Linked DNA regions of Homo sapiens: region 2 is linked to region 1. Evidence: fine-mapped expression QTL. Tissue or cell type: whole blood. Region 1 holds a variant in brackets; the other region holds the start of a gene. All regions are shown on one strand. Distances are between the middles of the regions.

Region 1 (4,242 bases):
CAAAGTCACACTTTAAATACAAAGGCCGAAAATGACAGAAAGAAATGACCAAATAAACATTAGCTAGATTAAAAATGAATCATTCAAATAGACTTCAAGTCAAGGAGTCTTAGCAGAGATGAAGAGGGACAATTTATCATGACAAGATGAGTTAACTCATCATAATACATATGCTTGTATCCAATAACAAAGTTTAAAAAAAATTAGCAGAAATAGAGCTAAAGAAAAGACAAATTTTAGCAAACAAGCAAGAAATAATACCAATATTAAACAAAATCTTTCAGTAAACAGAGGAAGGAACATTTTCCAGCCTATTTTATGAGGCTAGTATAATCCTTATAACAAAGCCTGACAAAGACATCACAAGAGAAGAAAAGTGTAAGAACAATATTCCTCATAAACACAGATACTAATATCCTTTAGGAAATATTAGCAAATCAAATTCAATAATATATAAAAACAATAAAGCATCATGATCAAGTGGGGTTTATCCCAGAAAGGTTGGTTTAACATTAGAAAAATCAATCACTGGCTGGGCACAGTGGCTCATGCCTGTAATCCCAGCACTTTGAGAGGCTGAGGCAGGCGGATCACGAGGTCAGGAGATCGAGACCATCCTGGCTAACACGGTGAAACCCTGTCTCTACTAAAAAATACAAAAAATTAGCCGGGCGTGGTGGCGGGCGCCTGTAGTCCCAGCTACTCGGGAGGCTGAGGCAGGAGAATGGCGTGAACCTGGGAGGTGGAGCTTGCAGTGAGCCGAGATCACGCCACTGCACTCCAGCCTGGGCGACAGAGCAAGACTCCGTCTCAAAAAAAAAAAAAAAAAGAAAAAATCAATCACTGTAATTCACCAAGTCAACAGAATAAGACTAAAATATGATCATTTCAATGGATGCAGAAAAAACTGACAAAATCCAATCACTATTCATTACAAAAATTCTCAGCAAACTAGGAACAGAAGGGAAGTTTGTCAGTATGATAAAGAGGTATACTAAAACCTAAAGCTAATATCATACTTAATTATAAAACACCAAATACTTGCTTCAGAAGATTTGAAACAAAGCAAAGATGTCTGCCATCATCACTCTTATTTAACTTTGTACCATAAGTCTTAGCCAGGATAATAAGGCAAAGAAAAAAAAAAAAAAGGAATAAAGATTGGGTTGGAAAGGAAGAACTAAAACTATTTCTATTCATAAGCAACATGACTGTTTGCATACACAGAGAATGCTAAGGAATACATAACAAAACTTCTACAGCTTCTAGAAGTAATAAATGAATGTTTACAAAAATCTCAAGATATAAGGTCAATATATAAACAGCTGTATGTCTATATACTAGTGGCAAACAATTTGAAAATAAATTTTTTTAAATTCCACTTACAATAGTATCAAAATAATGCACGGAAAAAAGAGATGAATAGTCAACTTATAGATTACAGTTCCTTAACATATCTTACATATCTTTTAATATATGAACCTTATTTTTAAAAAGACCATTCAACATATTAGTCTTCAAGGTAATGTCACTCAGAACCGCAATGACACAGCAAATGAAACAATCAACAAAATGAAAAGGCAACATATGGAATGAAAGAAAATATTAGCAAACCATATATCTGATAAGAGGTTAATATCCAAAATTGAATACTTGAAATACACTAAAAGAGTGTTTATAAGGAACTCATATGGACCAACAGCAAAAAAAAAAAAAAAAAGAAAAAGTAACATGATTAAAAAATGGGCAAAGGAGCTGAACAGACACTTTGCAAAAAAAAGACATACAAATGGCCAGTGGGTATATGAAAAGGCACTCAATATCACTAATCATCAGGGAAATGCAAATAAAACCATAAAGAGCTATCACCGCACACCTGTTAGGATGGCTATTACCAAAATGACAGCATGTGGTCAGGCACAGTGGCTCATGCCTTAATCCCAGCACTTTGGGAGGCCGAGACAGGCGGATCACTTGAGGTTGGGAGTTCAAGACCAGCCTGGCCAATATGGTGAAACCCGATCTCTACTAAAAATACAAAAGATTAGCTGGGTGTGTTGGCGGGTGCCTGTAATCCCAGCTACTTGGGAGACTGTGGTGGGAGAATTGCTTGAACCCAAGAGACGGAGGTTGCAGTGAGCCAAGATGGCACCACTGCACTCTAGTTTGGGTGCAGCAGAGCGAGACTCTGTCTGAAAAAAAAAGACAGCA[C/T]GTAACAAGTGTTGCCGAGGGTGTGGAGAGAAGGCAACTCTTGCATACTGTTGGTGGGAATGTAAATGGAAAACAGTATGAAGGTTCCTCAAAAAGTTAAGAATAGAACTATTATATGAACTAGCAATGCCACTCCTAGGTATATATCCAGAGGAAATGAAATCAGTATCTCAAAGATACATCTGCAAAACAATCTTCATTGTAGCATTATTCACAATAGCCAAGATATGGAATGTCCACAGACAGATGAATGAGAAAATGTGGTATACACATATAATGGAATATTATTCAGCCATCAAAAAGGAAGTCCTACCATCTGTGACAACATGGATGAACCTGGAGGACATCTGCTATGTGAAATAAGCCAGATATAGAAAGATAAACACCACCTGATCTCATACCTATATGGAATCTAGAAAAGTCAAACTCACAGAAGCAGAGTACATGCTGGCTGCCAGGGGCTGGGGAGGTGGGGAGATGTTGCTCAAAGATGCAAACCTTCAGTTATAAGACGAATAAGTTCTGGAGAGTTAACGTACAGCATGGTGACTACAGTTAATAATACTGTATTGTATTCTTGAAATATACTAAGAGAGTGTTCTCACCACATATGAGCACAGGTGCACGTGCACACACACACACACAGTCATACATCAAATCTTCACTTTGTACACCCTAAATATATACAATTTTTATTGTCGATTAGATCTCAATAAAACTGGGGGAAAAAGCCACAGTGAGATACTACTTTGCACTCAGTAGGATGGCTAGAACCTCAATGTTAGACAGGACCTAGAGAGTGGGCTGACATCAAAATGTGGGTGAGGCTGTGAAGAAATTGGAACCCCTCATACACTGCCGGTGGGAATGAAAAATGGCATAGCCACTTTGGAAAACAGTCTGGCAGTTCCTTAAAAGGTTAAACAAAAGAGTTACCATATAAGCTAGCAATTCTACTCTGAGGTATATACCCAACTGAAGTGAAAATATATGTCCACACAAAAACTTGTATGTAAATGTTCACAGCAACATTATTCATAATGGCCAAAAAGTGTTAACAATCCAAATGCCCATCAACTGATGAATGGATAAAAATGTTGTAGATCCATGTAATGCAATATTATTTGGTAATAAAAGGAACAAAGTACTGATTCATGCCAAAATATGGAAGAAACGTGGAAATATTATGCTAAATGAAAGAAGCCAGACACAAAAAGCCACACATTACATGATTCCATTTATATGAAGCATCCAGAATATGCAAATCCATAGAGACAGAGGTAGATTCATGGTTGACAAGGGTAGGGTGATGGAAAGGATGGGGAGAGGTTGCTAATGAGTATGGAGTTTCTTTAGGGGGCAATGAAAATGTTATAAAGTTGACTGATCCCGGAGTCAGTAATGGCTGTGAAAAAATAAAATAAAATAAAATGGATTGGGGTGACAGTTGTACAATTCTCTCTTTTTGTATGATGTTGGAAATTTTCCATAATAAAATATTATTTTAAAACCTCAAAAGTAAAGGGGAAAAAACCAGCCCTAGAATCTACTGTGTCCACCATGAGCATAGACTCAACCACTGGACTCAAGAGCCTGCCAATCCACAGTGGGTCTGTTGTCCTTGGTGCAGAAGATGCCATCTGACCTCAAATGACATGCTGACACTGACCAAAGTGGGGTAGTCAGTCCACTAGTGTGCAGAGGCCAGGTAGTCTCTAACACCAGTGACCGATGTCAGCCCACTCTCTAGGTCCTTTCAAGAATCCTAACTTTTGGAAAACCTCTCCCGGAAATATCAAGTGTTGGTATTGTATTTACCTGGTGTTCACAGTGTTTGCAGACCATATTACTAGTGAGTCTTCCATGAAAAGGATGTTGAGACTTCCAGTGATTGGATGTAGGGTGAGGTGACCCTGGAATGCAAAAAGTTTTTTGATATGTCACTTTTAGCCCTTTGGCACCAAGCTCAACATTCATCTTCCTTTCTAGCATGTGGTAGAAACTACCTCTTAAGAAAAAATATTCTTGAAA
Region 2 (4,242 bases), 21 kb after region 1:
AATCCCAGCACTTTGGGAAGTCAAGGCAGGAGGATCCTTTGAACCCCAGAGTTTGAGATCAGCCTGGGCAACATGTGGAAACCCTGTCTCTACTAAAAACACAAAAATTAGCTGGCCGTGGTGATGTGCACCTGTAATCCCAGCTACTCGGGAGGCTGAGGCAGGAGAATCACTTGAATCTGGGAGGCAGAGTTTGCACAGAGCTGAGATCGTGCCATTGCACTCCAGCCCAGGTGACAGAGAAAGACTCAGTCTCATAAAAAACAACAACAACAACAACAACAACAACAAAAACTAAGTCAAATCATCACATTCCAAAGGCTACTTCTCACTCTGAGGAAAAACTGAAGTTATTTTCCTTTTCTGCCTCTCACTCCACTTCCACATGGAACGTTACCAGCCAATGCTCTGACCTCAAGGCGTTTGCACTGCTGTTCCCTCTGCTCAGAATGCTCTTCCCCCAGATCACTGCTTGGCTCACTCCTTTACCTCCCTTCGCTTCTCAAGAGGCCTACCTGAACATATCAGTGGGACCTGTCCTTGTCCCCTTGACATGTTTCTACTTTTTCTTTTTACCATAGAACTTAACCACCTTCTAACATAAAATTAACCTATTCGCTATGTTTTTTTTCTTTTCTTTTTTTTTTTTTTAATGCACTGGGTTTGTTGTCTGTCTCCCTCAACTGGCATGTGCTTTGTTTTACCCACTAATGAGCTCAAGTGTCTAGATCATACTTAGCACATAGTAGGTTCTCAATAATATTTATTGAGGCCAGGTGTGATGGCTCATGCCTGTAATCCCAGCACTTTGGGAGGCCGAGGTGGGCGGATCACCTGAGGTCAGTGGGAGACCAGCCTGGCCAACACGGTGAAACCCTGTCTCTACTAAAAATACAAAAATTAGCTGGGTGTGGTGGCAGGTGCCTGTAATCCCAGCTACTCTGGAGGCCGAGGCAGAATGGCTTGAGTCCAAGAGGCGGAGGTTACAGTGAGCCCAGATTGCGCCACTGCACTCCAGCCTGGGTGACTGAGCGAGACTCTGCCTCAAAAAAAAAAAAAAAAAAAATATATATATATATATATATATGTATATATATGTGTGTGTGTATATATATATAAAATATTTATTGAATGACTGAATACTGGAGAAAATATACAGAAATGAATTTCTCTTTTAGAATATTAGACAGGGAAGGGGCACACATACAATGGTATAAAAGAGCTGAATATTTATAAAATTAAAGATTTCCTAACTTCAGGCTTGACTTGAACGCTGGTTATGCTTTTGCTACATATTAAGAAATTTCCCCAACAATTTAAAACATTGTTTTTATACAAAGTTATATATTTCTACAAAATAAGACAAACCATCTATGTGTATATAGCTATGTAATGTGTATCTGCATATATGTTACACATGCATACATACGTGTTTGTGTGTGTGTGTGTGTAATACATTATTATCCCAGTATTTGGATCATGTGAATATTGTTTTGATTTCAGTTCAGTAAACATTAACTTGGTGAAGAGTCACTGGTGGTAATATTGACCCTGTTTTATAATAATCAGCATTTCTTAGTATCATAGCTGATAGCTGAATTTCAGATAAATATTTGTTTTCCAAGACAGAGTCAACAGAATATGCACCAAACTTGGTTAAGAAAGTGGGATTACCTTATTCTGGTTCAATCCTGGCTTTGCTATTTCATTTGGCATCACTTCACCTTCTAAGCCTCAGTTTCCTCATCTGTACAATGGGGACAATCCATAAGACCTACCTCATAGGGCTGTTGTGAGGATTAAATAAGTGTGAATGCATACAGTACATAGTAAGAACTTAATAAATGTTAGCTGCTACAAATTAAGCATTACAATCTCAGGATCATTCATGAAAGCTATTCTTTCTTTTTTTCTTATTTTTATTTTTATTTTTTTTTGAGACAGTGTCTTGCTCTAGTTGCTCTAGTGCCCAGGCTGGAGTGCAGTGGTGCCATCTCAGCTCAACACAATCTTCACCTTCCGGGCTCAGGTGATCCTCCTGCCTCAGCCTCCCAAGTAGCTGGGACCACAGCTGCACACCACATGCCCAGGTAATTTTTAAATTTTTTTGTAGAGACAGGGTCTCACTACATTGCCCAGGCTGGTCTCGAACTCCTGAGCTCAAGAAATCCACCTGCCTCAGCCTTCCAAAGAGCTGGGATTACAGGTGTGAGCCACCATGCCCAGCTGGTGAAAGGTATTCTTGAAGTTTCTTAATACATCACTGTGCTTTTACACGATACGTGAGTTCACAAAAGTGCCTGGAAAGATTATAAAGGACTGTCATGGAAGTGCTAAGGTGCTTTACCAGTGCTTTAAAATCCCCTAATCAAACACTAATATTTAAGGGTACATACTCTCTGCCAGGCCCTGTGACAATCTTACCTCATTTTTAAAACAACCCCACAGATGCAGGTTCTACTATCACTTTCATTTTTATAGCAGAAGAAACTAAGAGCCCAACTTGGTCACAGTGAGTGAAGGAACATGGCTCTGAATCATGCCTGTCTGTCTCCCCAGGTCTGTGCTTAAAACCACGAAGTTCAAGATGGAAACTGAAGGGAAGAGTGTCAAGGGGATGGGAGAGAGGACTTGTCCATGACTTTGGCAGCATAAGGAAAAAATACCCAGGGACAAGTGGCGACTTTGGAAACTCCATTCCTCTGCAAAATGACATCACGAGGAGAGTGGTGGGGCCTGCGGATGAAAAGATCTGGCTTCTCCTCCCAACTCTGCTATGAGGTCAGCTATGGGGCCACACTTCCTATCTACGGAATGGGGGCACTGGACAGGATAAGTATCGAGGACTTTCAGCCCTGGGATAATAAGCTCTTTAAACCTGCTCCAGTTCCAGAGGAAGCCGACCTGAGCAACAGGTCTCAGTCATTTGGGGTCAGCAGTGGGGGAGGGGGTACTCAGTTCTGAAGCCTGGAGCCCTTGGGAGGGTGAATAAGAGGGAAATGGGGGCCCTGACAGGATTGGGGACCCAGGCAATCGAGGAGTCCTAACAAGAACGGAGGGCTTTAACAGGACCAAGCAACCTTAACAGGTTAAAGGGGCCCTGACCAATTTAGAGACCCTTGCAAAACAAGGGCCTTTACTCACACTAACAACATCAGGGACCCAGACAGAAGTGGCGATCCATATTAGACTAGAGGGCGGGCTAACAGGAATAGGGGGCGGTACTAACAAAACGCGGGGCTCGCAGGCCCGGGGCACTTATAGGACTAGAAGAACCGTGCCAAGGTTGGGGAACCCTGGCAGTCCAGAAACTGATATGATTGGGGGACCCAGAAGGACTGGGGGTATACTAGAAGGATTGAGGGGTCTTGGCAGGCCTAGGAGGCACTGAAAGGACTGAGGGCACTGACAGAATTAGGGGCCTTGACAAGACTGGAGTGCCCCGGGTGTCCTGGGAACAATGACAGGAGGGGGAGGGACTGACAGACCTGGGGAGTGCAGACAGAATTGGTGTTGCCGAAGGACTGGAGCCCGTCAGTCCTCCCACCTACGGGCCCAGGCCTCCAACCCTAAAGGACGCAGAACCTTCCAGAATGCCCGCGCGGGCCCTGGAGACCCCAACTAGGGCATGAAAAAGCCGTCACGGGCCCAAGCTGGGGACCCTGGTCCCGGCCTCTTCGGCAGCCCCGCCCCCCAAAATCTCACCTGACGGCCGCCCCGGTCCGCAGGAAGCGCTGGATGGCCCTGTCGGCCGCGGTCATCGCCGCCTCGGCCCGGGAGCTCAGCATTGCAGCCGCACCGGAGGCCTGAAACCGTCTCCTCCGCTACCGCCGCCGCCGCCGCCGGACCGAGGGATACGACGGTTCCCGAGACAGCGGAACCTGCGGCCGCAGTCCCAGCACCTCGGGGGAACGTAGACCGCAGGACAGCTCCCAGGGGGACCGGAAGTAGCTGCCCCCGGAGAGCAATAGCTGACGGACCACGTCCTTTCTTTCTTTTCCCTTAGCAACAGGCCCCGGCGTCGGTTGCTACGCTGGGCTCAGTTGCCTGGGGCTGCTTGGTTTTCAGATTTGCTTAGGCTCCATTCATAAATACAGATGGCACACTTCTAGGATGGACCCTGGGTCATGATTTGAATTTTTCGATGTGGGGAAGGGAGGCCAACAGCCGAAAGTCGGGTCAGGCCTCTGCTATAATTAGTTATTATTGTGGCCAGAGTGGAAATAGGTCGCAGAGGAAGGA

What was found. PIP is the estimated chance that this variant, and not a neighbour inherited with it, causes the effect.
Region 2: USP30-AS1 starts here. The variant in region 1 is fine-mapped to the expression of USP30-AS1 in whole blood (TOPMed, PIP 0.94).

Annotation. Positions count from the first base shown.
Region 1 is chr12:109,073,320-109,077,561 of GRCh38, reverse strand. It overlaps USP30 (ubiquitin specific peptidase 30), which reads right to left. Exons shown (of 13, transcript NM_032663.5): 7 at 4,030-4,124. Among named protein-coding and RNA genes, the nearest start is that of ALKBH2, 18 kb to the left of the region's middle. The variant C/T (reference allele first, on the strand shown) is at 2,212.
Region 2 is chr12:109,052,225-109,056,466 of GRCh38, reverse strand. USP30-AS1 (USP30 antisense RNA 1) reads left to right here and starts at 2,502. Exons shown (of 2, transcript NR_038996.1): 1 at 2,502-2,781; 2 at 3,729-4,242. It overlaps USP30 (ubiquitin specific peptidase 30), which reads right to left and starts at 3,891. Exons shown (of 13, transcript NM_032663.5): 1 at 3,706-3,891. The coding sequence starts at 3,788. RefSeq lists enhancers at 2,495-2,864, 3,198-3,697.